7 linked regions of the Homo sapiens genome follow. The protein of the gene in region 3 purifies or fractionates together with the protein of the main gene of each other region. This does not show direct contact. Each region holds a gene or a part of one and is shown on either strand. Other genes may lie near its edges.

Region 1 (2,947 bases), on a different chromosome or scaffold from region 3:
CCGCTGGGCCCCCCGCCACCACTGGGGTACATCGGGCTCAGCGTGGGCGAGGGAGTGTAGGCCAGGTGGGTGGGCGTCATGGGCAGAGCCGGGGAGAGCTGAGGGGGCAGCAGGGATCCAGGACCGGCCAGAGGCGACACAGGGAAGGGGCTGAGGGGTTCAGGGCCACCCCGAGGCCGGGGATAGACTCGGAAGACACCAGGGTCATGGGGCAGGCGGGCCAGCGGGGGCCCTCGGAAGGCACCCAGATCCGGAGGGCCGGGTGGTCGGGCGCGGGGATCCTCTCCCAGCGGTTCCTCCAGCTCTGACGTGCCATCACTACAGTCACTGACTGAGCCTCGGCCCAGGCGGCGGGCCACCACAGCCGAGAAGAGGGAAGATGAAGATGAAGAGCAGGCTGGTGGTGAGCGGGGGTCCTCGGTGGGGGACAGCACCTCGGAGGGCGTTGAGGGAGGGAAGCGGAAGTGGCTACCACCCGACGGCACTGGCGGGGCACTCTGGGGCACTGCACCCCCTGGCAGAAGGGAGACAGTGTCAAGGCCCCTGGCCTAGCCTGAAGGGGCATGTAGACCCTCTCCACACCAACCATCCCTGGTACTCACCAGCCAACCCCACATCAATGAATGGGTAATTGACCAGCACCAGTTTGTTGAAATTGAACTTGTAGGTGAACCGTTTCCCCTTGGTCTTGTGCAGAATGCGCTTGTTATAGTAATAGCTGTGGGTACAGAAATGCCATTGGGAAGGTCAGGTACGTGGGACCCAGGTCTAGACTCCACACCTTAACACGCACTTAGGTGTGGTTCCCAAAGGCCAACTGAGGAACGTAGGCCACAAAAGACAAATCAAGTGCCCAGAGGGTGGGTACCAGCTCTCTCCTCACATCTAAGGCAGGACTAGAGGATCCACTGGTGACTGTAATCTCTCCTCAGGATACGTCTGTGTTACCAAGGGGCTCAGGGAAGGGCTGGGAGTGGCCCAAGGTCACACAGCTAGGATTTGGCAAAGCCAGGGGTCAGACCCAATGCTTGTTCCCACAGGCAAGGGGCTGTGCAACCCCGGGGGGGCACTCCACATGTGCTCAGGGGTCCCCAGCCCGTCCTCACCGCAGGGCCCGGCTCAGCTTGTCGTAATTCATCTGGGGCTTGCACTTGCGAACGCCCCACAGCCGGGCCACCTCATCAGGGTCTTTGATGACGAATTCCCCGTAGTCCCCCTGCCAGGCAATGACGCCCTGGTACTCCTCCTTCCGCAGCAGCTCCAGGATAAAGTGCCACAGCTGGATCTGCCTTGAGCCAGGGGACGACTCTGGCTTGTAGGCCCAATCCGGGAAGGCAAACCCTGGGGACGGGAGGCAGGGAGTGGCCTGGGGTCAGGCTGCCAAGTCCAGGGCTCTGGGTCCCATCCCAGGGTCCACCTCTGCCCTGCCTTCAACATGGGGAAATCTGTCTCACCTCAGCCAAGTCAAGATCTGATTTAAGAGAAGACAGTGCGTGTCTGTCTGTCTGCATGTGAGGGGCTAGACAGGAGCTGGGGGGGAGGGGAAGCTGGAGCCCGCTCCAGCGACACCGGGAGAAACAGGAAACCGTCGGCGGTGGGTCCCGGGGCCAGTGCCAGGGGGCCAGGCACCAAGCCAGGCTGGCGGGCAGGGCTGCCAGTGGGGGAGGGGCAGGAAGGGGCACACGTGGCCAGCCGGGTTGGGGTACAGCCCCCCAGCTTACCCCCACTCCCATTCAGAGCCAGTTGCACCACCCCAGCTCCTCGGATGTCCTCCTTAGAAACATGCACTGTCTCCTCCGAAGACCCAACAGAGCCCCTACTCCCAACCCCAAGACCTGAGAGGAAGATTTTTTTTTTTTTTCTTAAAAGGACCAGGAGGGGTGGGGTGACTCGGTTGCCGATGAGGTCAGCGCTTGCACACACAGAGGCTTCTGTCTTCCCTGGAGAGTGAAACCCAGACTGTCTGAGAGGCCCCCCAAGCCCTGGACCCTCTGAGCTACACTGCCCTCCCCAGACCCAGGCATCCAGGCCCCACCTGGCTGGAGGGCCCAGCCCAGGCCTGGAGCTTGAGCAGGCACCCTGGAGCTGTCACCCTCTTCCCACTTCTGCCTTCTCATCTTCAGCTCCTTCCCTGCCCACCTGCCTGCCCACCCCCAGCATTAACCTTGGGTAGAGGTTGGCGGTGGGCTGGCTGGTCTCTGGAGGGGGTGGGCAGCCTGGGGTGGGGGGTGGGGGGTGGGGGGACTGCGGTTGTTGTCATTTCCCAACAACAGGGGCCATCAATAATTCAGCACCAGGCAGCCGGTAATGGAGGGGTGGGAGGAGGGAAAGGGGAGGAAGGGAAGGAGTGGGGAGGCAGAGCAGGGTCCCTGGTGCCACTAGAGAGAGAAGGCCAAGGTGGCCAGCTAAAGATGGGCGGCTCCCAAATCCAGTCAGGCTGCAGGGGTCAATCCGCCTCCCTTGGCCCCAGCTCAAACAGGTACCAACAAGGCCTCCAGGCAACACATCCACCCTCAAAGACTCCACCCAAGTCTGGAATCCAACAAGGGATCCTTCCCCTTGGGAATCCAGGGAATCAGTAGTTCCTGCTCCCACAGGGACCACCCCCTCCAAATCCAGAGCTCACTGTAGGCCCCCAACTCCTGCCCAGACTGGGCTGCAGTACCACATAGCCCCCGGAGTCCCTGCCCCATTCAGATATATCCCAGCCTTCCACCAGCCCCTCAGGGTGCCAGGGATATGACCTCCAGCTGTTCACAGACCAGCACCAACAGCCCCTGTTCCATTTAAAAGTGACAGCCTTTGACAACCCCTTCCAGAGACCCCAGAGCACCATCGCTCTCTTGGGAATCTAGGTGTTCAACCCATTATCCTCACCCTTCTAGAGAATCCAGATCACAAGGTCTCCTGCAAGGCCCAGGGTCCTTTGGAACCCAGGTGACCCAGC
Region 2 (4,423 bases), on a different chromosome or scaffold from region 3:
TCAATTAACCATTTTAAAGTGTACAGTTTAGTGGCATTTAGTACCTTCACAATGTTGTGGAACCATCATCTCCATCTAGTTCCAAAATGTTTTATCACTCCCAAAGGAGTCCCTATACTCATTAAGCAGTCATTCCCCATTCCTTCCTCCCCACCCCCACTACTATGCTTTCTGTCTCTGTGGATTTACCTATTCTAAATATTTCATAAGATGTAATCACATCATATGTGACTTTTTGTGTCTGGCTTCTTTCATTAGCATACATTTCTGAGATTCATTCATTGTAGAATGTATTAGCATTTTATTCTCTCCCCCCCACCTTTTTTTTTTTTTTTTTTTTTGAGACAGGGTCTCACCCTGTGGCCTAGGCTGGGGTGCAGTGGCATGATCTTGGCTCACTGCAGTCTCCATATCCCAGGTTCAAGCAATCCTCCCGCCTTAGCCTCCCAAGTAGTTGGAACTACAGTCCCTTGCCACCACACCAGCTATTTTATTTTATTTTATTTTTATTTTTAGCAGAGATGAGGTCTTGCTATGTTGCCCAGGCTGGTTTCAAACTCCTAGTCTTACACGATTCTGCTGCCTCAGCTTTCCAAAGTGTTGGGATTACAGTCATGAGCTGCCCTGCTGGGCCACTTTATTCCTTTTAATGGCTAAATAACATTCCATTAGATGGATGTATCACACTTTGTTTACCCATTCATCCTTTGACAGACGTTAGAGTTGTTTCTACCTTTTGGTTATTGTAAATAGTGTTGCTGTGAACACTGGTGTACGTGCATTTGTCTGAATACCTGTTTTCAATTCTTTTGGGTATTAGCCTAAGGGTGGAATTGCTGGTCATATAGTAATCTATGTTTAACTTTTTGAGGAACCACCAGATTGTTTTCCAACAGCTCAATAATGTTTTACTGAAGTTAAATAGAATAAGCAGGAGGGAGTCTGGGAGGCAGGGATGAGGGCTTTTCCTGTCCTTCACAGGCAGCCCTGGACTCTGCCATTTACCGGCTGTGTGATCTGGATCAACGTACTTAAATTCCCTGCGCTGCCTCCTAATCCTCAAAGTGGAGAAAATAAAACCTAATTTCTGTGAGCTGCGTGAGATACTGTTTCTGAAGCTCCAGGCACAGAGTAAGCCCCCGCTCATTAATTGCCTTCCCTTACTCCCTGACCTTGCCTTTTCGCACTTCACTCGCTGCCACGTGGCCTCGGAGCCCAGTCCGCACCCGCAGCCCCCAGCTGAGCCAGGCTGCAGACTACAACTCCCAGCGAGCACTTCTTCCCGGCCGCCTCTCCCCAGCTGCTGCGCATGCTTTGGCAGACGTGGCACCGGGAACTCGGAGGCGGGGAGCGGCTGGGAAGTGGCCGTGGTGGTTGGCCGCGGTGGAGCTAGCAGGCGGGCGGGCGGGAGCGGGCGCCGGAGTGGAGAAAGGAGCCAGCGGTGGGCAGCGCTGCTGGGATGGCGCGGGCCGGGCCGGCGTGGCTGCTGCTGGCAATCTGGGTGAGACTGTGGGGCAGGGATCCGGGCCGGGCCAGCACGTGTGTCCCGCGTGCCCTTCTGCGCTCTCTGCTCCAGCCCTCTGCGGAACGTGCGGGGAGCTGCCCCGGGGCACCGGGATGAGGGCGTGCATGCCAGGCAGGCGGGCACTGGGTGCTACGCGGGAGACAGCGGGCGTCCCGGTGCCCTCGCCGCCAAGCGCTCCCGGACGCAGGGGCAGGAGGCAGCTGTGGGGCGCCGGGAGATCCCTGGCAGGGTGCTTACGCCACGGCCACAACTTTGCGGGGATGCAGGTCGGGGCACAGCCGGTCGGGCAGGACGCCGGCGGGCTGCGGGGTGAGCTCCGCTCCAGACTCCGAGCCCTGCACCTGTGTGAGTGCGGGGTGGGATGGGGGTGCTTACTACCTGCACTGCCGGAAACCTTGGTTTAGGGCCACCTTGTTCTTGGCTTCGGCCCCAGGCGTCTGGGAAACTGCGGGCCACCACCTGGGCCTCCGCCCACAGGCCAGGCTCGGTGGGCTGGGTGGGGTCGACGTAGCCCGCCCCGGCGGAGGAGCTGCTCCTACACCCAACTGAGGCGGGCTCGAGCCTCAGCCACTTTCTAGCTGTGTGACGCGGCGGTTCATTTAATGTATCTGAGCTAGTTTCCTCATGCATGATATAGAAAGGCAAAGCTACCCCCATAGGGTGGTTCTGAGAGTCGGATGAGGTCTCAGTGGAGGAAGCTGTGTAAACTGCAAAATCTTACAAAAGTGGAAAAGGAGTGGACTCCAAGAGTAGTTTGCTACACTTGGTGGGGGGGACTCCAGGCATCCCTGAGAGAGGTCGGAATGGGTGTGCCTGCCGGCCCAGGTCTGGGGTTTGGCCTTCGTTTCGCTGTGGGTGTGTGATGAGATATTGTGGCCTCCTTCCCCATCTTTTCCATAACTTATGCGCTCCCTTATTTTAGGACCATCCTGGTCCTTTTCCCCTGAAGTTCCAGGGAACTTCCTGTTCCTGGCACCCTCCCCCCAACCCAGATTTTCCCGTTCTTTTCCATTTGGGTGTGGCAAGGACACTGGGCAAATGGGAGGAGAAAAGTGTGGGTTGAGTTGCTTGAAACACTTCCATCTCCCAATACCCTGGCCTTTTGGATCACCAGTGAGGAGTGGCCTGGTACTCTCTGGTTGGAAGTGGGTGGGGAAAGAAGCCCCCTGTTCTCTTCGGTCTGTGTTCTCCCTCTTGGGGAGAACCAGGCTGGAGTGGGGCAGTGTCACTTAATTGCGTCTGGGTTTGTTGAATGCTGGTTTGCCATCAGTTCCCTGGAGCCAGTTGGTCTGGGCGGGTCTCTGGGCCAGGAGGAGGGAGCTATCTCCTGAAACGCCCCCCATCGGTCTTTGCACTTGGGCTGAGTAGGAGGTCCTGCTTTCCTCCCTTTCCCCTCCCTTTTGTGAAAACAAACGGCTTGAGAATCTGAAATTTCATTCGGCAGACATTTATTTGTCAATCACATTGTTTGGATTGATATTTTGCCCTCCACTGGGTTAGATTTTGGGCGGAGAGCAAAACACACATTGTACCTGCCGTCTGGTGTTGCCCTGGATTGGGCAAAGGAGTCAGTCCTGTGAGCAAATAATGACAGAACTGCAAGTGCTGTGACCTTAAGTACTAGTATCCTTCACTGAACCGGAGCCATACGTTGATTTAAAGGGAGGTCAGCCATGGCTTTCCTGAGGTGGTAGGGTTGAACAGAGTCTGAAAGATGTGTGGTAGTTAGCTAGGCAGTGGAGGGCTGCAGGTCCCCTTCACCAGGAGGTGCGGAAGAGCAGGTAGGTTTGCTGAAAGCACTAGAACCTGGGAGTCCTGAGCAAGCAATTTCTATCTTCTCCTTTCCCTAAGCCCTAGAGTTGGCTTAGCGGGTAGGAGGTGGAGGGAGCATGCCAACAGGAGCAGTGGTGAGTGATTGCTGGACAGCGCGTTGGGTCTTTGTAAATTTAAATGCTGTATCTATCTGATAAGTGCTCCCCAGGTTCCTGGAAGCCGGTTGGGTTTCTTTGTTCACTCAATATTTACTGAGGGCTGATATGTGCACAGGACTGGGCTGTGACCTGAAGGGTATAAAGGCATCTGCAGGGATTCGTGTACAGGGATATACACCCACCACATTTTTTACAATAGCAAAATGTGGAAATGGGTTAAATGCTCAATAATAGTGGCATGGTTAAATAATATCTGGCCTTGTCCATATCATGGAAAGTGATATTTATCTTTTTCAGTTTGGCCTGCTATAAGAAATATCCCATAGACTGGTGGTGTAGAACAATTGAAATGTATTTTTCACAGTTCTGCAGACCAAAAGTCCGAAATCAGGGTGCCAGCATGGTTGAATTCTAGTGAGGACCCTCCTCCAGAAGACTCTTGACTTCTCACTGTATTCTCATATGATAGAAAGAAGACTAGACAGTTCTCTTGGGTCCCTTTTTCAAGGGCACTAATCCTATTCATGAGCGATCCACCCTCATGACCTAATTACGTACCAAGGGCCCCACCTCCTAACACCACCACTTTGGGGGTTAGGATTTTAACATATGAATTTTCAGGGGAATGACAGAAATACTCAGTCCTGGCCGGGCACAGTTGCTCACACCTGTAATCCCAGCAGTTTGGGAGGCTGAGGCGGGTGGATCACCTGAGGTCAGGAGTTCGAGACCAGCCTGGCCAACATGGTGAAACCCCGTCTCTACTAAAAATACAAAAATTAGCCAAGCATGGTAGCGGGCGCCTGTAGTCCCAGCTACTCAGAAGGCTGAGGCAGGAGAATCGCTTGAACCCAGGAGGCAGAGGGTGCAGTGGGCTGAGATCGCGCCACTGCACTCCAGCCTGGGGGATGGAGCAAGACTCCATCTCAAAAAAAAAAAAAAAGAAGAAGAAGAAGAAGAAATATTC
Region 3 (3,917 bases):
CACTTCCTTATAATCCATCCATGACTATAAATGGTGATATTTTTCTCCCCACAACAAGAATAATTACAGTGCCAAGATGAAGAGCAGTTGCTACATCTCCTCCCTTTTTCCATCCACAGTTACAAGTTCCTCATCTTCTTTCTTCATCTTAAAAAATATAAACACTAACTTCTTGTCACTGAGCTAAGTTGCAGACACTTAATTAACTGCTTTATTTGAGTCATCTTATTTAACTTATTTGTAAATTCAACAGATAATTCTTGGGCACCCACCACATACAACATAGTGCTATTCTAAAGACTGGGAATACAATTGTAAGCATGACAAACAAAAGCCTCTGTGGAACGTACGTTCTAGTGTGGAGAGACAGATATTAAGTAAATATCAAGCCATGATGAGATCCTTAACTAAAAATAAAACAGATTGATGGAATGAAGAGACCGCGGCTACTTTAGAAGAAATTTCCAGGGGAGGTTTCTCTGAGGAGTAATATGAAAATCCATCCATCAGAAGATGGGGTGGGGGAAGTGCTTTCCTAGACAAGGGGACAAGGGGACACTGTGCACAGGCCCCAAGACAGGAATTTGCCCAGAGTATTTGAGAGAGGGCAGGCAGGCTGGAGCTCAGGAGGAGGGGGGCACATGATAAGGAAGAAGGCCAGAAAGGTGAGCAAAGGCCAGAACACACAGGGCAGAGCTGGCGTTTGCACTTACTCTGCTGCTTTGTGGAGAACAGATCATAGGTGAGTCTTAGGGCAGCAGGAGGCCAGTTGGGAAGCTACCACAGTGTCCATGAGCAAGTGCATGGGGGCTTGGGCCCAGGATAGTGGTGGTGGGGATGGAGAAGTCAACAGATTTTAGATCTTTAAGTAGTAGCAACAGAACTAGCTGGCAAGTTGGGACAAGTTGGGGAGAGGCAGTAAAGAAGAGAGAGGCAGTGGGGAAGACTACAGGAGGAGCATGTTTAGGGTAGGGAAATCAGGACATCTCTGCTGTGGTGTTGTTGAGATGTTTTTTAGCCCCCAAATAATGTGAATGTCAAGTGAGCAGTTGGAGTTCAGAAGCATCAGGGCTGAAGATGTAAAGTCACAAGTCATTAGCATGTAGGTGGGGTTAGATGCGATTCCCACAAAGGAGTAGAGCTGTAGAAGAGAACAAGAGAACAGGACTGTACCACAAACTTACCAGGTAGCACTGCTTACATTCCCACTCTACAGATAAGGAAAACAAGCTTAGGTGGTTTCAGTGATTGGCCCAAGGTTCTAGGAAACAGTAGCACTGGGATTGCACCCAGGCAGTCTGACTCTATAAGCTCTACTCCTAATCACTTGGCTGTAGTAGGCAGGTCCACACAGCAGTGCTGTTTTGCTTCCTTCATGTGCCACAATTTCTCTGCAGGAAGAAGATGATGATGGTCTGCCTAAGAAAAAGTGGCCAACGGTAGACGCCTCTTATTATGGTGGGAGAGGCGTTGGAGGCATTAAAAGAATGGAGGTAAGAGGACAGCTTCATATACACTTATCTATGTGCTGACTACTCCCATCGAGGTACCAGCCGGGCCTGACCCTGCTTAGCCTCTAGATATCAGGCATGCCCAGGGCAGTATGGCCGTAGACCACACTGATGACTCAATGTCAGAAACCCAAAGCAAATTGCTGAAAACCTCCTTGAGGTCTGGTGGGGATATGGATTGTAAGGCAGACGGATGGAGAGATAGGAGGGACAGCCTTTCACTGTGCGTTTCCATGTCTTGCCCACCGTGAGTCAGAGCAGGTCACACATCAGCTCAAACGTCCTCGTGATTTCTTTTCTCACTGGAATAAAATCCAAAGTTCGTACCTGAACCTGCAAGGTCTTTGCATGTGCTGTCCCCGCTGCCTGGACAATTCCTCCCTAAATATCCACCCATGTGGCTCAGCTCTCTGCTCCTTTGGTCCTCCCCTTTTCTCTTTTTCCACAGTTTCCCTCTTCCCTGGCCCTCAAAACCCAAAGGAATCCAGGGTTGGGTAGCATTCACATTGCAACTCATGCATGTATTTGTCATTCTCATTCTCGAGGGGCAGCATATTTTGTCATTTCATTTCATTGTATTTTGTTTATTTTAGGTTCGTTGGGGAGAAAAGGGCTCCACAGAAGAAGGTGCTAAGTTGGAAAAGGCAAAGAATGCAAGAGTCAAGATGCCGGAGCAGGAATATGAATTCCCTGAGCCGCGAAATCTCAACAACAATATGCGTCGGCCTTCTTCCCCCCGGAAGTGGTACTCTCCAATCAAGGTGTGTCTCTTTACTCAAAAAATCTATCATCAGTCCTGATAAAACACTTACATAGTGAAGAATCAAAATCTTTCCACATGATAAAATCCCAACCTAAAACCCAGCTTATCACAGGGGAACAATTATCTAAAATTATGGACTTGAAAGTACTAGTAATTACTTTGTCAATTTCCACATAATCTGGGTTGAAAACTAGGCTTTTTAAAAATCACCGTGGTGCTCACTTCTGCAGCACATATAGTAAAACTGGAACAATATAGAGAAGATTAGCATGACCCCTGGGCAAGGATGACATGCAAATTCGTGAAGTGTTCCATATTAAAAAAAAAAAAAAAATCACCATGGCAAGGTACTGGAAAAAGCATGGACTGTGAGTCAAGTAACTTGGGTAGTAACCCCAGAGAGTGACTATAAATTTCCATAGCATCTCATAACTTCACTTAGCAGACAATCTACTATCTAAGAAAAATGGCAGCCTTCTCCTTAATGCTAATCTCTACTCCTTTTGCCATAATATAAGCCCATTCCCTTTTATTTGCGCCTCCTGCCAGTGTATCAGGGCCCACCAGCAAATCTCACTGGTCATGGATCTAGGACTCACTCTTTCTGGTTGTAAGCAAATCTTTTTTCTCCACCATCTGTCTTTCCCCCACACCTCCAGATCTTAAAATCCTCTTTGGTTTATTGGGAAGTGTAAACCGTTGGAGGCAGTTAATGTTTCCTAAAGGCCTCTTTTTTATTTTCTATTTATTTATTTTTTGAGACAGGTTCTCACTCTGTCACCCAGGCTGGAGTGCAGTTGTGTGATCTCTGCTCACTGCAACCTCGACCTCCCAGGCTCAAGCCATCCTCCCACCTCAACCCCCAAGTAGCTGGGACTACGGGCACGCACCACCACACCCAGCTAATTTTTGTTTTTTTTTTTTTTTTTTTTTTTTTGAGGGACGGATTTCACTATGTTGCCCAGGCCTGTCTTGCACTCCTGATAAAGCAGTCTGCCCACCTCGGCCTCCCAAAGTGCTAAGATTACAGGCATGGGCCACCATGCCCAGCCTGAAGGCCTCTTTTCTATTCTTCTTGGTCCAAATGGCTTTGAATTCACATGATTCAGTTAACACCTTCAATCTTTAGCCATGCCCATAAACATCTGCACTATGCCACTTGTCAGAGAGCACTGGAAAATTATAGCTGAAAAGACTCTAGACATAATCTGTCCCCACTCTCTGATTTCATACTGAGATAGGCAAAGTCCTTGTTCTGCTGAGGTCTGGAAAACAAGGCCCCCAACTCAGGGCTACAGACTCCAGTTTCAAGCTGCAAACAGAACCGAACCAACTCCAAAGCCTCAAGTCAAAGACTCAATAGAGCCAGCTCCCATCACCATCCATACACATACACACACTCACACACACACACACACACAGCCTTACCCCCCTTCCAATAGCAACAAAGATTATTTTCATCATTCGCTGAGTTAATTTGCTAATTTTGGATCAGGGCTTCTCCAACAAATCAAAAGAAGTACCATTTCAGGCAGTGTAGCGAAACGTTATTGGTGGTTACCTTTCCTCAGCTGAGCTAGCTCAAGCTCACCTGAATTGCCACGCATTTCTATTTTGGTTTGCCATGTTTGAAGCAGTGAGAT
Region 4 (3,945 bases), on a different chromosome or scaffold from region 3:
AACCCACTGAGAACAGAGTCTTGTTCAATTTTATGGGAATTTCAACAAGTAACCAATACAGGCGGCCTTCCCCTCTTATTTTTGTATTCCCTTGGACCGGCTGTCAATCACACACACACACACACACACACACACACACACACACACACACCCCTCGGTGCACTGGCCCCTTCCCTTCCCCGCCTGCCTGCTCCTCTCCCAGCCTGCCAGCTGCCCTCCCTGCTCCCCTTCTTCTCCTCTCCCGGCAGATCCACTCAACTTGAACCCGGACTCTGAGGCTTAGCAGCCTTGGAGAAACCGTACTCTAGGAAGAAAAAAAAGCACACAGGAAAGAGACTCCTGACCCTTCCTCAAGGCTGCTCTCGCCCCACCTCATAACACTGGGCGCAGGCACAAGCTCCCAAAACTTCGGAATCTGGATACATTACTGTCTTGGAGGGGGTGAAAACTGCCCAGCAAAGCAAGCCGGCCTCTGTGCCCCTACCCAGCGGCCTCCCGCGGCCGGCCTTCCCTGGGAGCCTCGCAGAACCCCCGACCGAGTCTGGGAACGCCCGGGGGAGACAATAGCTCGGGCCTGACGCCCGACAGGGACCCTCTGCCCTTCCTTCCTCGCTGTCTTGCTCCCGTCCCTATAGGATACCCACCCGGCCCTGTTGCCATCTCCCTGGAGCGCCAGCGGTGGAGGCTTCGGAGGAGCCGGCCGGATGCACCGGGACCCCGCGGGGCCTAGTTGGGAGCGCGCCGCCCACTGAGGCCTGGGGGCCCGGCGAGGCGCGGGGGTGGCCAAGGCAGTCTCCCCGGCACACAGATCAGCACATGTCTACGCGCACACACCCAGCACGACCCTCCCTCCCCCAGCACACCCCAAGGGCCGCGCCCTCCGCTCCTGGGCCTGGTGGCCATGGTCCATGTGCCCCTGCCGGCGCAGGGGCTGCCCTGGAGTTCTCCATTAAGCCCTGCGAGCACTTCAGGAAGGAGCTCGGGCTTCTGTCATCCCGCTCAGCACATCAAAGCGCCGACGGCCGCCTTCGTGGGCAGGTGTGAGCGCTCGCCCTCTCTCCTCCCGAGCCTGCTATTTTGTGGTCCAGGACTTGCCATCAGAACTTGCTTTAACGCGACGAGGGAACTCACCTGTGTGCAGAGCGCCGCGCACACATCGGGGCTCGCGGGACAGGGCAGCTGCGTTAGCGCAGCGCCGGGTGTGTTCGGGTAGGTGTTGCGGGCAAGGAAGTAGGCAGCGGCCCCTGAGCAGCCGCCTCGCTCCGGCATTGCGGGGACACGGCGGGGCTGAGGCCACGAGAGCAGGGCCCGAGCCCGGCGGGCCGTGGTTACGGTTTTCTTGCACTGAAAAACTGAATCCGGCCCGAAGCGACGTGCACTTTATGGTCCCCACACCACTCGGTTAACTAAGAAAAGACCCGGGCGAATGGACCTAACGCAGCCCGGTGCCGAGAGGGCCCGGTCCAGCAGCCTCTGGGGCCCAGTGCGCAGGGCACTGCGGGCCGATTGCGCCCCGGGGCCAGGAGGCGCCGAGAAAGCAAAAGCAAAAGCCGGCGGCGGGTGGAGGTCAAGCGGCCCGGTGCAGGCCGGGGACCGGGGAGCCGCCCCGGGAGAGCAGGGTCCAGGCCTTCTCTGTCCCCCTCCAGCCTGGGGCTACCTCAGGGACTCCTCGCGCTGCCAGATGCTTCGGACCAAAGGGCATTTCTCTGCGCCCTGAAGTCCCGGCTTCTCTAGAGGAAGTCTAAGACGTTCGGGACCCACGAAGATGCCTGCGGAGGGGCAGGAGAAGAGGCGTGCTTTTCTGCCCCATCCCTTCATCTTGCGATTGGGTTGTTTTCTATCGTCCCCTTTGGCACAGGGAGTCCTCTGCGCTCGCTGCTGTGACCGGCCCAGTTAGTTGGGAAACAAGGCTCAGAAAGAAGGCCGCAGTGGTGTTTCTGGGGTAGGGTGCTTGGCCCTCCCTGAAGCCAGGGCTCAGGGCAGCACAGGCCAGGAGCTCTGCCGGGAGAGACCCGGAACCAGAGTCTGGGTCTAGTTGTCCGGTACCTGTGCTCATTCTGAGATTAAAGTGCACGCCCCAGCCTCAGAGAATAAAATTGGAATTCCAGGACATAAGAATCCCCCTCGAGGGGGAACTTGCTCTGTGTTTGTGCGAGCATCAAAACAAAACATAATGATTCCAAAGCAATTCTATGACGTGCAGTTGGTGTGTTTGAGCTACTTCTAAAGCTGGGCTTTCTCTACCAGCTGTCTAGCAATTTACTAAAAGGCACAGCAGCACCTTTTGTACTCTGAGGCAAAATAAGACACCCTGCCATCCACTGGATGACTTTGTTTCTGAAGAGGTTTTTTTTTCTTTCTTCTTTCAGTGGGACTGCCCCGTTACCAGCATCACTCTACTCCAGTGTGTGACAGAAAAGATTTCGTCCTCAACTTCAATGGGATTTCTTCTTTCCATCCCTCAGCTAGCGGGTCGTATTATCACCATCACCACCAGAGCGTCTGTCAGGATATTAAGCCCTGCGTCATGTGAACGGAAAGAGGCCAAGCGATGGCCGCTCTCTCCTCTCCCCTCCTCAGAGGGGGCAGATAGAAACTGGGACGGATTCAAGTCACATGCACGCGGATAGCAGTAAGCCACACACCTGCCACTTAGCCAGAATGCCCAGGATCGCGTTGGTCACTGTTATTTGCCTACTGCTGGAAGAAGGACAACCGCTGGCAAGGTAGCGTTCCCCAATCTGAATACCTGCAGGCTCCCACATGAGGGAGAGGGCAGACTCAGGTGGGAAGATGTGCCATGCGTAAGGCATCAACGTGTATCTGTGGGATCTTCGTTGCCTTCAGTAATCAGGGTGTGAAAAAAGCAGACAAGTTGTGTGTGTGTGTGTGTGTCTAAGAAAACTTGTGTGCTTTTCAAAAAGGCAGTGCTAAGCACAAGATTTCAAGAAAGCCTCTTCTTGTTGCCTAGCTGAGTGGGAGAGTCATTTTCCCCAGACACTACATTTGGATACAGGTGCCAAAGAACATTATTAAGGAATTATTTAGAAACAATGTGTCTAGTTTAAGAAAGTGGTTTTCAGTATTGTGACAATACAACGTTTTTACAAGGTTGTTTTCTACCACCATATTTTAAAGATATTTTTATGACCGTGTATACTCACACTTTGCTTGTATTTTAAAAGGAGGATATATTTGCACTTATGTATACTTTTACAGTTTGCCAAAATATTTTGTTGTAAAATTTTTTTTCAATAAAATGTATATAACAAATAGTTGTTTTAGGGGCTGATTTTCTCTTCGGGCACCCTGAGAGCAATGGATGCCAGTTTCTCCTCCCCGGCAGGCAGCTGTGCAACTCTACCCACACCCCCTCCAGTGGTGTAACTGACATGGTGTGGGGTCTGTGCCTTGAGTAACACAGGCCAGGTTCTGATTGTGAGTCTTCTCAGGAGAAAAACAGTGGAAGAAACGTTTTCTGTTATTTCTTTCTTTACTTCACCCCAGCTTTTTCTGGCAAAACAAAAACCAGAAGGTGAAAGGAACTAGAAAGAAAACCAGGCAAGATACCGACCAGGGTTTGATTTTGAGGAAACCAATTTTGTGCCCCTTCTGTTTTCTTTCCTGTGCCCGGGGAGTGTTCTGCCCTTTGCCCTCTCTCCCTCCCGACTGGCATGGGTTGACAGATGTGGGGCACAGTGGTAAGCCCCCCTCCAGGGTTGGATGCCCAAAGAACAGCACCCTGCTTCTTCCCTTTGCACGTTGCAATTTTGTTATGGGTGGCGGTCACATGCTGTCAGAAATGGGGTTCAGATCTGAAGAATGCAGGGGGATCCCTGAGCTGCAGGGGGCAGGCTCCCAGCAGGGGGTTTAACTTCCTTGGGGAGTTTAATACAGAAGCTGGACTCCCCACACGTTGCTCTGTGGCTGCGGCCTGTCCCACCC
Region 5 (3,917 bases), on a different chromosome or scaffold from region 3:
TCATAAAATGGACAGCTCCACTCCCAGGCCTGCGGCCCTCCCTGGTGGCCTTTGCCGCTTTCCTATGCTCCTGGCAGCAAAGTGGTTCATCTCTAGCAAGTGGTCTCTAACTTTCCCAGGCAGAGTCCCTGTCTACAGGGCAGGCTCCCTACCCACTGACTTCCTGGAACAGAAGCCAAGCTGTCAGGAGGGAGGGACAAGCTGTGGGCTTATAACATTTTCTTAAGAAACACGTGGTGGTTTCTTGCCAGGCAGGAAGTGTTTGTTTCCACATCGTAGCCACCTGAACCATGTCTGATCCTTCCTTGTTCCTCGTCTGTCTCTCTTTGCACCCCAGGCACCCAGGCATGTGGAATATGCTCATAGTGGCGATGTGCTTGGCCCTTCTGGGCTGCCTGCAAGCCCAGGAGCTCCAGGGACATGTCTCCATAATCCTGCTGGGAGCAACTGGGGACCTGGCTAAGAAGTACTTATGGCAGGGACTGTTCCAGCTGTACCTGGATGAAGCGGGGAGGGGTCACAGTTTTAGCTTCCATGGAGCTGCTCTGACAGCCCCCAAGCAGGGTCAAGAGCTCATGGCCAAGGCCCTGGAATCCCTCTCCTGCCCCAAGGACATGGCACCCAGTCACTGTGCAGAGCACAAGGATCAGTTCCTGCAGCTGAGCCAGTACCGCCAACTGAAGACGGCCGAGGACTATCAGGCCCTGAACAAGGACATCGAGGCACAGCTCCAGCACGCAGGCCTCCGGGAGGCTGGCAGGATCTTCTACTTCTCAGTGCCACCCTTCGCCTATGAAGACATTGCCCGCAACATCAACAGTAGCTGCCGGCCAGGCCCGGGCGCCTGGCTGCGGGTTGTCCTTGAGAAACCCTTTGGCCATGACCACTTCTCAGCCCAGCAGCTGGCCACAGAACTCGGGACCTTTTTCCAGGAGGAGGAGATGTACCGGGTGGACCATTACTTAGGCAAGCAGGTGAGCATCAGCATGGAGCCTGCCAGGGCTAGGGTGAGCTGGGCGCTGGTAGACCCCAGCAACAAAGCCGCTCGCTCATTGTGGAGCTAGGCCCCAAGGCATTGTGAACTCAGAGCTCCCATGGTCTCCTTGAAGGTGGGCAGGAGGCGAGCGGGTAAAGGAAAGACAGCAGCAGGGCAGGACTGTTGGGTCCTTGTCCATGTGTCTGGCCTCTTTTGTCCTTTGCAAAGCCCCCGTTCTCGTTGTTTCCCAGTCTGGGCTCTGGCTTCTCACGGTTGCCCTGCATCCCCTGTAGCGGTGGCTCAGCAACTCTGGTGTCTGGATCTGGCTTCCTGTTGGGTGTGCTGTGGGAATCAGAATGAGCTCTCTTCTCCTGCACCCATCCACCTTTTTTTTTTTTTTAGACAGAGTCTGCTCTGTCACCAGGCTGGAGTGCAGTGGCATGATCTCGGCTCACTGCAACCTCCGCCTCCTGGGTTCCAGCAATTCTCCCGCCTCAGCCTCCCAAGTAGCTCGGAGTACAGGCGCGCATCACCATGCCCGGCTAATTTTTTGCATTTTTAGTAGAAATGGGTTTTCACCATGTTGGCCAGGCTGGTCTCAAAATCCTGACTTCAAGTGATCCGCTCACTTCGGCCTCCCAAAGTGCTGGGATTACAGGCGTGAGCCACCGCACCCTGCCCCATCTACCTTTTTTCAAAATGTTTTTCTTCCTGAGTTCTGTTTTGAGCCAGAAGGTTGGCAACAAGAGCTTAAACCAGGGAGCAGTAGGACCTTAAGTCCTGGGCAGGAGCATGGGTTAACCTCCTGGGTGACACATGTCCGTTGACCAGTTCACTCAAAATGCCTTGGAGGCCCTTGGGGGCATCCTGCCCCAGGAACCCTGGCAGAGAGTGCAGCAGCCCTGTGTTCTGGTACGTGGTGCGGGTGGGCATAGGCAGTTGTTGAGGACAGAGACATGGCCTTCCATCCCACCCTGCCTGGAGTTGCCCATAGTAGGATTCCTAAATAGGGGTCCTCAGAACTGGGCCAGTCCTGGGGAGGTTTTCACTTGTTTATGGCAAGATGAGAAGAAATACAGAATGTGCTCAATTCAGAGCTTTTCTTTGCTACATTTTTGGTGTTAAACCTATCTTTATTTTATTAAAAATTGATTGTAATAGAAGATAGGTAATTCTAACTTTTTTTCTTGGCAAAATACAAATCTGGTAACCCTTTGGAGGTCACTTGCAAGTTTTTGGAACCTTTACTGGCCTGTGAGATCGTGAAGTCCAGAACTACTGCTCAGAGGGCATCTTCTGCTCTGAGCAGGGAATAGAAAGGTCAGAGCCCTTCCCGGGAGTCAGGGTTCCTCCTTCATCGTGAGAGTATCCTGCAGCACGCCCAGTCTTCCCCCCCCGACAGGCTGTGGCGCAGATCCTGCCTTTCCGAGACCAGAACCGCAAGGCTTTGGACGGCCTCTGGAACCGGCACCATGTGGAGCGGGTGGAGATCATCATGAAAGAGACCGTGGATGCTGAAGGTGTGTGAGTGGCCCTGCGCACTCGGTCCCCCAGCCTCTGCCTGCCCGCTGTCTGCGGTGAGGCATGGGGCGCTTCTCAGAGGGAGGTTTTCTGTGGGTGTGTGGTCTCCCTTCGAGCCTGCCGTGTGCCTAGCTCTGAACCGGGCTAAACCCCAGGGTGCCGGCTGCAAAGCCCAAGTAGCCATTGCTGCCCATGAGGAGCGTATGGTCCAGAGAAGTAGGCCTGGCACAGAGGCGGGAAACCACTGGCACGCGGTAGAGGCTGGAGTCTCCCTGAGGTCCCCCAAGTTTTTGAGTGCGTGGAGACCATGGGAACTGCGTGAGGGCTTCCCCGACTGTGGTGCTTGCAGCCGTGGCGCCCCCTGCCTGGGGCACTCCCCCTCGCGTCCCCCTCACCTTCTGACCCCTCTCTCGCTTGTTAGTTCTCAGCTCCATGGCCCTCCAGGAAGACTTTCTGAGCCCTGCAGGCCCACTCCCCTCACCCTCACGGCGCCACACACCTCCCTCCCCTGCCCTGCACAGTGTTACCCTTGCCTCGTCCTTGTCCACCCTGTCTCTTCTGCCAGCCTGTAGGCTCCAGGAGGACACCGCCTCTCCCGCACTGCCACACACCTCAGACACACTGAGTATACACCCGGGAGGCGGGGGCCCTGCGTCATGCCCACCGCTGCCTTCAGCTGGGTGGCCTCAGCATGTCACTCCTTGCAGCTGTGAGATGAGCATGTCCTGTCGGTGAGGACAGCTAAGGTCCCTTAGCTGGCATTCTGTGATGGTAGCAAAGTTTTGGAGCATTGACCGTGAAGATGTAAAGCACTGGCTCTTGCCCAGTAACGATAAGAGCTGAAGTTTACTGTGTCCCCAGTCCCCAGCCGCCAGGTGAGGTGGGCGCTGTTACTAGCCTCCTTACAGATGAAGATGGTGGCGAGCCCACAGCCCCACAGTAGAAGGCGGTGGAGCCTGATCCTGGGGGCAACAGTCTGGCCCCAGCACTCAGGCCTGGCGCCGCTGCGCTGTGCTGCCAGCGCTGCGTCAGTGGCCAGCTCATCCCCGCGGCCGCTTTCTGCAGCTGCAGCGGGAGCACCCGAGGCCACTGCCCCCCCAGCCCCCGCAGTGCGTGCCCGCCACAGGGCAGGGCCCAGAGCCCTGGACCCAGGGATGGGCCAGGAGGTTTCTCCTCTTTTTCTCTCTCCCTTGCTCTTTCTCTGGGCCATTTTCTCTTTTTCTTTCCCCCGCCCCTTGGTTTCTCTTCAGCTGCTTCTCCCTTCCTCTCTGAATGTGTATTTAGTGCCAGAAGCTCTCTGCGGGGCCGAGGTGCCACAGTGAGGTACAAAACTCAGCCTCTCAGATATGGCTCCCTAATACTGCCCAGATTCACGGGTGCTGTGGGGGGTGATGATCTCATCACACTGGCTGGTGGGACA
Region 6 (3,917 bases), on a different chromosome or scaffold from region 3:
CTATGATCACGCCGCTATATTCCAGCTTGGGTGACAGAGCAAGACTCTGTCTTAAAAAAAAAAAAAAGAAGGAAATGAACTATCAATACAAGCAACAACATGGACATATCTCAACATAATTATGCTGAGTAAAAGAAGGCAGAGAAAAAAGAATATATACTGTATGAGTCAATTTATGTGAAATTCCAGAAAATGGAAACTAACCTATAGTAACAGAAAGCAGTTCCATGGTTTCCTGAAGAGTGAGGAGGCAGAGGGAGGAATTCCAAAGGTGATGAATGTGTTCACTCTCTGGACTGCAGTGATGGTTTCACAAGGGTACACATATGTTAAAACTTACTAAACTGTATACTTTAAATATGTGCAACTTATTATATCTCAGTAATACTCCAATAAAGCTATTGTAAAAACTAAAATGTATCACGCCTGTAATCCCAGCACTTTGGGAGGCCAAGGCGGGCTGATTGCTTGAGCTCAGGAGTTCGAGATGAGCCTGGGCAATGTGGTGAAACCCCGTCTCCACAAAAAGTACAAAAATTAGCCGGGTGTGGTGGCTTGAACCTGTAGTCCCAGCTACTCAGGAGTCTGAAAAGGGAAGATCACCTGAGCCTAGGAGGTAGAGGTTGCAGTGAGCTGAGACTGTGCCACTGTACTCCAGCCTGAGTGACAGAATCAGACCGTCTCAAAATAAACAAAAATAAACAAACAAAACATAAAACGGTATAGGAAAGTTTAAGAAAAGTGTAATATTCAGCTTCATTTATTAGATTTACAAGAGTCATTTAGGTATTAGAGGGTTTTTTTAATCAGAAAAATGGAAGAATTATTATTATTATTTATTATTATTATTATTTTTTTGAGATGGAGTCTTGCTGTGTCGCCAGGCTGGAGTGCAGTGGCATAATCTCAGCTCACTGCAACCTCCGCCTCCCGGGTTCAAGCGATTCTCCTGCCTCAGCCTCCCAAGTAGCTGGGATTACAGGCGCGTGACCACCACACCCAGCTAATTTTTGTATTTTTAGTAGCGACAGGGTTTCACCATGTTGGCCAGGATGGTCTCAATCTCTTGACCTCGTGATCTGCCCGCCTTGGCCTCCCAAAGTGCTAGGATTACAGGCGTGAGCCACCCACCATGCCCGGCCAGAAGAATTATTAAAATAGTTAACTGAAGTTGAATATGATTTATAAGTTCAATTGAAACATTTCAGAAGTTTCATCAAATTTGCAAATGGGACCAAGCATTAATCAAAAAGCCCCCTAAGGCCGGGGCGGCGGCTCACGCCTGTAATCCCAGCACTTTGGGAGGCCGAGGCGGGCAGATCACTTGAGTCAGGAGTTCGAGACCAGCCTGACCAACATGAAGAAACCCCGCCTCTACTAAAAATACAAATTAGCCAGCATGGTGGCGGGCGCCTGTAATCCCAGCTACTCAGGAGGCTGAGGCAGAAGAATCGCTTGAACCAGGAGGCGGAGGTTGCAGTGAGCCGAGATCGCGACAGAGCGAGACTCCATCGCAAAAAAAATAAATAAATAAAAGCCCCCTGAAAGTGACTGTTAAAATGTCCTAGAATCGTAAATAGATCAGAAAGATTTATAGGCTACACTTATAAGCTAAACTTAAAAGACTGGCCCTTAAAATAACTAGGTTTCTGAATTCATAATTTTAACAAATTGAAAATCAATTGTTTTCGACCAAAGTAATTTCTGAATAATCTTTGCATTACATAAAAATCCAGGGGTAGGAGTGGGTGTGGCATCCAAACCTCCCTCAGACATGCCACGCACCAGTCACCCGAAACTCACCAAGTCGCTTAGTCTCTAGTCTCTCTGAACCTCTGGTTCCTCACACATTGCAAGAGACAAATATTTTCCAGAATAAATAATATACTTATTATTAATGATTTAATATTAATACATTTCACATTGATACACAGCATGTACATGAGAAGAGGCTCCAAAGCAGCATAAAGTGATGTGCAAACGTAATAAATGGGCAGCATGTGTCACTTCATAGTAACTGCAGCACTCAGTGACAGACAAGAGAAAGGTGACACACATCCCCAGAGACTAAGTATGACTCAGCATGGCCAGGTCGTGGAATTTTCCCAAAGCCTCGTTGTGATGTCATGGTGGATGTCATCAGGAAAGGAGCTGCCACAGAAGCAGTCAGGCCCTTCCACACACAGGCAGTGGAAATGTACTCCCAGCTGTCCCGTGCCCTCCCGGCCCCACCTCTTTCTCTGGCCTCGAGGCATATCAGGACAAGGAGGTAACACAAGAGTAGGAAACCCGAGGTAGTGCTGGGAGTACCTGGGGTAACGCCTTCAGGCATAACACTTAACAACACAACAAAGGGCCACATCCATGTCCCCCCAGGAGAAAGCTGAAGAGGAGGGGAGGGTGACAAGCTTAGACTACAGAGCCTTAGTCCCTAGGCAAAGCTCAAGTCAGCAGTGCCTTGGGAACTGAGGAGCCAAACAAGCTTTGACAAATTACATAACCTGGAAGAAGAGGTCCCTTCTTGGTGACTGATTTTCCCTCTCTATTGATGGATCTAAGGGAAGACATCAATAAAATATGGCAATTTTAAAAGAAGAATAAACAATGGGATCAGCATCTTGGATTCTGCTAAGCAGCCTTCTCTAGGCTTCAGTTTCTTCAGTTCCATAAGACAAGTGGTTTGGGGGGAACCTTCCCCAACATGCCCACCTCTCATTGTAGGGATGCAAGTAAGAGAAATAACATCCAACTCTAGCAGCCAAGAATAAGAGGACAGAGCAAGCAGAGAGAGAACAAGGGGGTGAAACTCGTGGAGGGTGGAGTTCTTCCACGTTACGGCCATTCCCACCATGAGCCCATTGCCCTTACTCAATGGTAGCACGCAGACGGCACCTGCTGGCCCAAGACCTAGCTCCAAGGGAGGACTGCGGGAAATCTCACACAGGAAACCAGCTCCTGCGTCATGAAGGGTCGTCAGAGGAAAACCCCCACATAATGGGTGGAAAACCGAGAAAAACTCCTATACCAAGGAATCCCCACTCAGCACTGGATATGAGCTCTGGAGAAAGTTGTCCCTGAGCCACAAAGTCCCCAAGGCCACAGCGGGCCTGAAGGGAAGAGCATTATTGTTGTCACAAATGCTGGGAGAGCACCTGGTTCCCTGGCTCGGCTGCTCCTGCAGACCAGCAGGGGGAGAGGGGACTGGACTAGCAGGGGACCGGCGGGAGGGCTGTGGAATTTAGGCTGAGGGGAGGCCACTGAATCTCCCAGGCACCTGCCACCATGGAAATCCATGTTGGGGGAACTGTAAAAGCAGTAGAGGCCGGACGCGCTGGCTCACACCTGTAATCCCAGCATCTGGGGAGGCCGAAGAGGGCGGATCACCTGAGGTCAGGAGTTCGAGACCAGCCTGACCAACATGGTAAAATCCCATCTCTACTAAAAATACAAAAATTAGGCCGGGCACAGTGGTTCATGCCTGTAATCCCAGCACTTTGAGGGGCTGAGGTGGGTGGATCACAAGATCAAGAGATTGAGACCATCCTGGCCAACATGGTAAAACCCCGTCTCTACTAAAAATACAAAAATTAGCTGGGCATGGCAGCACACACCTGTAGTCCCAGCTACTCGGGAGGCTGAGGCAGGAGAATTGCTTGAACCCAGGAGGCAGAGGTTGCAGTAAGCCGAGCTTGCGCCACTGCACTCCAGCCTGGCAACAGAGCAAGACTCCGTCTCAAAAAAAAAAAAGAAAAAAAAAAACTTAGCCAGGTGTGGTGGCACATGCCTGTAAAATGTGCAGGGGAAGAAGGGCAGGTCCCTTTTTCCCCGTTGTTACCGTGACTGGCAAAGGTTGAGCGTCACCCTCTGGAAACCCGTGTCAAGTGACTTTACAACCAGCTGGCAGAACCACCTCACAC
Region 7 (4,514 bases), on a different chromosome or scaffold from region 3:
GGACCAACACATTACTGTAAAATTGTGCAATTCCAGCAACTTCTCTGTCCATTCCCTAGGGTCCAGACCTCTGGCTACCCGAGCAATCCTGTGAGCAGAAGTATCTGGTCAGGGGTGAGAAGAGGAGCTGGTTGCCAAACTGGGCCCTTAAGAAAGTGGAGATCCCTCCTGAATGCTCTCATGATTCTCAGGAATTCCCTTCCTTCCTAGTTCCTCCATGTCCCTACCCCAAAAGATCTCAAACTCCAGCGTGCTTAGAGATCTGACTGGTGGCTGTCTTCTCCTCTGGCTTGCATTCAGGGAGGTGAGGCCAGGTCTTGGCCCTTCAAAGCCATCCAGTTGGCTACCTTCTCCTTCGGGATGGGTGGAAGGCTAAGATGAACAAAGGAAGGGTCAACTGTGCCTCTTCCAGGCCGCTGAGTCCTCCAACGCCTAGCTGTGCTCAACCTTGACTGGGTGAAGCCAAGGCAGGGCCTCAAGGCAGGTCCAAGAGGCAGCTCCCATTCTCCAGTTCTGGGTTTTATAGGTGGGGAGAGGCATGTATGCCCCTCCCTTATCCAAGCATTCATTAGTCAATTGAGAATTCTTAATTTGGGGAATCTAGGGGCTAGACTTTGGGTGTGGAATTTAAAAAGAAAGGTCTTTATGTTTATTTAACTCCCTGCCCCCCACCCCACTCCTAGACACACACACGGAAACACACACACACACACACACACACACACACTCCCCATCACATCCTCTGAGCTAGAGGCTGATGTCCCTCAGCCCATGTTCCTCCTCCACTGCTTAGTTCCATAGCCCGCGACCAAGATTGCGTCTATAAATAGGAGGGGGTGGGGTGGCCAGGGGTCCCGTCGTGCCTGCCCCAGAACCCACGACGGTCACATTTTTCACCCCCTTTTGCCTTTGCCCTCAATTCCTTTCCCTCTTTGCTCTCCTTCCATCTCAGTTCCAGCGAGGGGGGTATGTGTGTGCGCGCGTTGTGGGGGGGCAGGGGGAGGGCTCGTGGAGGGAGGCGCCGTCGGAGGGAGAGTAGACGTCAGGCGGAGGGAGGGAGGCAGGCAGGCAGGGAGGCAGGGAGGGAGAGAGGGAAGGAAGAGAAGGGGAGAGAAAGGGGGAGCAAAGACCGAAAGAGACCCAGAGAGATACAGCTTGAGAGGAGAAATAATTAAAGGGGGAGGGCGACCAGGAGGAGAAAAAGGTCTGGGAGGAAAGAGAGATAAAGAGAATCGGAGGGCAGGGAAATGAGTTTGTGCGCGTGAGTGTGCGCGCGCGCGTGTGTGTGTGCAGGGGCGGGCGCGGGCGGGCGGGGGGCGGGCTCCCGGGCTCCCGGGCTCCCCTCCTCCCCAGCCCGCTCCTCTGGCTCGCTCGCCAACTCCGGGCCCCAGCCGCGGGCGGGCGCACGGCGGGCGGACAGCATGCTGAGCCTCCTCGTCTGGATCCTCACTCTCTCCGATACTTTCTCCCAAGGTAAGGGCCCCCAGCCCACCCCCGGACGCTCGGCTTCCCCCCGGGGCCGGGGCACTGCTTCCCCGGTGGGAGAGTGCTGGAGTGCCCCGCGGCCCGCGGCCAGTCCCCGGGTCCGGACGCCACGAGGCGGGGGCTCGGTCCGGGCGCAGAGCCCTGGGGGAGGGGGCGCGGAGTAACGAGGGGCTGGGGAGAATGAGTTTGCCGTTGATTTGCCCAAGTTGTTTCCTCTGGCTGCGCGGGAGAACCGAGCAATGGGGCCGCGAGGGCTGGAGGTCCGAGTAAAACGGGGAACCGAACGCTTTCTCTTGAGCTTCTGGCAGCCCTACCGACCCTCGCCCTCTGAGGCCGGGGTTCCGGACGCCTGAGTCCAGCCTAAGGGCAAGGCTGGGAAGAGGGTGGGATTTCGGATTTCGGGCGAGGGGGTGAGCGAAAAGCTGGGTCCCACCTCCCGAAGATGTTGCCAAGGGGATCCCCCTACTCCAGCCCAGCCCCTCGGGGGTCTGAGTCTGAATCACGGCTCCAGCCTGCCTGGGGCTGCCCCCTCTAGAGGAAGGGAGGGGTGTCTCGGCGCCTCTAGTGGGGATTTGGAACCCCTGCCCACGGAGGCTCTGGGTGGAGAGTGGAGTTCCACATACAGCTTCAGGCCCGCTTGATACAGAGGGGGGGAACTCACGGGGGCGGGGGCAGAGGCGGTGGGGGGAGGGGGCTGACACTCTACTTGGGCTCAGGAAAGTGTTGCTGTCTGGGGCTTATTTGACACTGGCAGGGGAGAGGCTGGGAGGTGAGGGAGGTGGTTGGGAGAGATGAGGATGTCAGTGTATCCTGGGCAGGGCTGGGGTTGGGGGAGGGAAGAGGGCTGAGGGAACCAAGGGTCCAGACTGCAGCAGGGACTGGGGTCTGTGGGAGTTGGTTCTTGCCTCCCAGGTCTGACTCTAAGGAAGACTGAATCCTGCTGAACTCCTTCCCTCCCCAAAAATGGAGCTGACACACAGAAATTGACACACAAACACCGTAAAACACTCACAGACACTGAGACAGACTACTCACCTACTGAGAGAGAGACATCCCCACAAACATCCCCCACACTGAGACAGACACATATACACAAAGACACGGAGACATCTGAGGAAGACAGATTCCTCCCCCAGATCGGCACACACTCACGCATTCATCCACCCGAACGTTACAACTATACACAGTACATGTATGCAGGCGTTTACAAGGACAGGACACACGCTCTCACAGAAACCAACCCTCTAGCAAACAAAGAAACTTGAACAGACATTCATATGGGCAGACACCTATGGAGATGTACAGACTGCAGATGGAGGAGGTGTCCTCTTTTAGGGGGTGTCTGGGAATGGATCTGGGTAGAACAGCCTCAGGCATTATTGCCCTGCTTTCTGTTCCCTTCCTGCGTTTGTAGGTGGTGTGTTATGCTGGACCTTTCCTCTCCTTGTCGGGTCTCTTCCCAGTTCCGAAGGCAAAGCCTGGCTGAGTTGGTGGGGGCACGTCTTGATTCATTTCTCCCCACAGGGCACCCATGCCAGCCCCCCAGCACACACTATGATATGGGAAGGGCACACATCTGTGGTGTGAGCCAGGAGTGGGAGGTGGTGCTAGGGGAAAGGAGGAGGCCTGGCCCTGGGGTTGGCAGGCCAGGCCAGCCACTTGGCAGAAAGTTGGGAAGATGACTTAAGTTCTGACTTTGTTCAGCCAGGCTGTTGGTGTCGGGGAGGAAGGGGGTGGGCCATGGTGGTGGTGGAGGGGGGTCATGTTGGTGGTGGAGGAGGCCCCTGGGTCAGTATTGGTCTATGTTGGGGGCAAGCTTATGTCTGTCCCTTTCTTACAGCCCTTACATGTCAGCATCATGGATACAAATGAGTGTTAAGGAACAAAAGCAGCAGTTAGCAAACAGGAGAGACATGTGGATTGAATTGGGGACAGAAAGAATTGTGTGTTGTGTGCCTTTCTCTCTTTGGAAAGGAGCGAGTGGCTAGGGAATGCTGAGCTCCCACTTCTCTGCTCCAACAGGGGTGAAAGCAGGACCTGGTGAAAGTGTCTGGGGTTGGGGGAGAGGATACCAGAGAAAAGAAAGGGAGAGACTAGACAGGAGGGGAGGGGAAATCACTAGTGAGTGTTGGGGGAAGCTTGGCAAGGGACTGGGGAGGAGGCAGAGAGGGAAGGAGTAGGGGTCTGGGGAGACTGGGACACACATGGGGGTGGAGAGCTTGGCAGGACCCCCTTTCCTTAGCCTCCATCCTCAGAAAGGAGCTCTAGGTCAGGGACTGGGGCAGTGAGAGAGGAAACGGAGGGGGGCGCTACAAAAGGGAGGAGGAATGATGGTGGGGGAATAGGGATGGGGGAGTAGGTGTCAGCAGGAAGCCATAGAATTGAGGGGAGCAGAGAGGAGAGGGGAAGGGGAGATTCAGCCTAGGCTGAGAAATAAAAATCGCATTTTAAAGAATTTCAATGGGCTTCATCAATCTTCATTTTTCACTAAATAATTTTCTGTATCTTATCTAAATGAAAACCATTATCCTTCCCCCCGTTTCCATCATGCGCCGGCTCCACAGACTGATTGCGCCGAAAATTGAAATATTTATTCATTTTCTGGGAGATTTTCTCGCTCCCTAGTCTCGGGGAGGAGAAATTGAAAAAGAAAGATTATAGCTAATCAGAGCAATGTGGGATGACAGGCCGGCTCGGGGAGGGAGCTGCCTCCGTGGGGGGGATGGATGTGGGGGCAGGAGAAAAATAAGCCCACCCAGCCCCCAGAGCTCCCCCTGGCATTCCTGCCACAGCTTTTGAGGGGAGTAAAGGGTAAAGGGAGGAGGCCCGAGGGCCTCCTAAATTCCCAGGATTCAACTCCCTGAGTACAGCTGAATCCTGGCAGAGAACAGCAGGTCTGGAGAGTAACTGGACTCTCCCCTTTCGGTGCTACACATAGACACATATACACACTTTAGATGTCCCACTTCTGCCCAGAGCAGGGCGCTGAGGTTGGGGAAGAGTCAGGGGAGACATGGCAGAAACCAGGA

What was found.
Region 1: the proteins of ANTXR1 (region 3) and ERF purify together in Homo sapiens (affinity purification with mass spectrometry; 3 studies listed by BioGRID and IntAct, with this or other methods). This does not show direct contact.
Region 2: the proteins of ANTXR1 (region 3) and PDIA5 purify together in Homo sapiens (affinity purification with mass spectrometry; 3 studies listed by BioGRID and IntAct, with this or other methods). This does not show direct contact.
Region 4: the proteins of ANTXR1 (region 3) and FOXF2 purify together in Homo sapiens (affinity purification with mass spectrometry; 3 studies listed by BioGRID and IntAct, with this or other methods). This does not show direct contact.
Region 5: the proteins of ANTXR1 (region 3) and H6PD purify together in Homo sapiens (affinity purification with mass spectrometry; 3 studies listed by BioGRID and IntAct, with this or other methods). This does not show direct contact.
Region 6: the proteins of ANTXR1 (region 3) and PC purify together in Homo sapiens (affinity purification with mass spectrometry; 2 studies listed by BioGRID and IntAct, with this or other methods). This does not show direct contact.
Region 7: the proteins of ANTXR1 (region 3) and KIRREL1 purify together in Homo sapiens (affinity purification with mass spectrometry; 3 studies listed by BioGRID and IntAct, with this or other methods). This does not show direct contact.

Annotation. Positions count from the first base shown.
Region 1 is NC_000019.10:42,249,225-42,252,171, forward strand, and holds part of ERF (ETS domain-containing transcription factor ERF), read right to left. Parts: intron 2,217-2,947; exon of another isoform or gene 2,165-2,216; intron 1,941-2,164; exon of another isoform or gene 1,722-1,940; intron 1,342-1,721; coding exon 1,107-1,341; intron 719-1,106; coding exon 603-718; intron 515-602; coding exon 1-514. UniProt on the Homo sapiens protein: Potent transcriptional repressor that binds to the H1 element of the Ets2 promoter. May regulate other genes involved in cellular proliferation.
Region 2 is NC_000003.12:123,065,706-123,070,128, forward strand, and holds the start of PDIA5 (protein disulfide-isomerase A5 precursor), read left to right. Parts: upstream 1-1,319; 5' UTR 1,320-1,459; coding exon 1,460-1,501; intron 1,502-4,423.
Region 3 is NC_000002.12:69,180,389-69,184,305, forward strand, and holds part of ANTXR1 (anthrax toxin receptor 1 isoform 1 precursor), read left to right. Parts: intron 1-1,397; coding exon 1,398-1,493; intron 1,494-2,104; coding exon 2,105-2,272; intron 2,273-3,917. UniProt on the Homo sapiens protein: Plays a role in cell attachment and migration. Interacts with extracellular matrix proteins and with the actin cytoskeleton and thereby plays an important role in normal extracellular matrix (ECM) homeostasis.
Region 4 is NC_000006.12:1,392,327-1,396,271, forward strand, and holds the end of FOXF2 (forkhead box protein F2), read left to right. Parts: intron 1-2,369; coding exon 2,370-2,533; 3' UTR 2,534-3,277; downstream 3,278-3,945. UniProt on the Homo sapiens protein: Probable transcription activator for a number of lung-specific genes. Mediates up-regulation of the E3 ligase IRF2BPL and drives ubiquitination and degradation of CTNNB1.
Region 5 is NC_000001.11:9,244,588-9,248,504, forward strand, and holds part of H6PD (GDH/6PGL endoplasmic bifunctional protein isoform 2 precursor), read left to right. Parts: intron 1-337; coding exon of another isoform or gene 338-347; coding exon 348-974; intron 975-2,378; coding exon 2,379-2,496; intron 2,497-3,917. UniProt on the Homo sapiens protein: Bifunctional enzyme localized in the lumen of the endoplasmic reticulum that catalyzes the first two steps of the oxidative branch of the pentose phosphate pathway/shunt, an alternative to glycolysis and a major source of reducing power and metabolic intermediates for biosynthetic processes.
Region 6 is NC_000011.10:66,948,154-66,952,070, forward strand, and holds part of PC (pyruvate carboxylase, mitochondrial precursor), read right to left. Parts: intron 1-3,917. UniProt on the Homo sapiens protein: Pyruvate carboxylase catalyzes a 2-step reaction, involving the ATP-dependent carboxylation of the covalently attached biotin in the first step and the transfer of the carboxyl group to pyruvate in the second.
Region 7 is NC_000001.11:157,992,256-157,996,769, forward strand, and holds the start of KIRREL1 (kin of IRRE-like protein 1 isoform 1 precursor), read left to right. Parts: upstream 1-1,389; 5' UTR 1,390-1,421; coding exon 1,422-1,473; intron 1,474-4,514. UniProt on the Homo sapiens protein: Required for proper function of the glomerular filtration barrier. It is involved in the maintenance of a stable podocyte architecture with interdigitating foot processes connected by specialized cell-cell junctions, known as the slit diaphragm.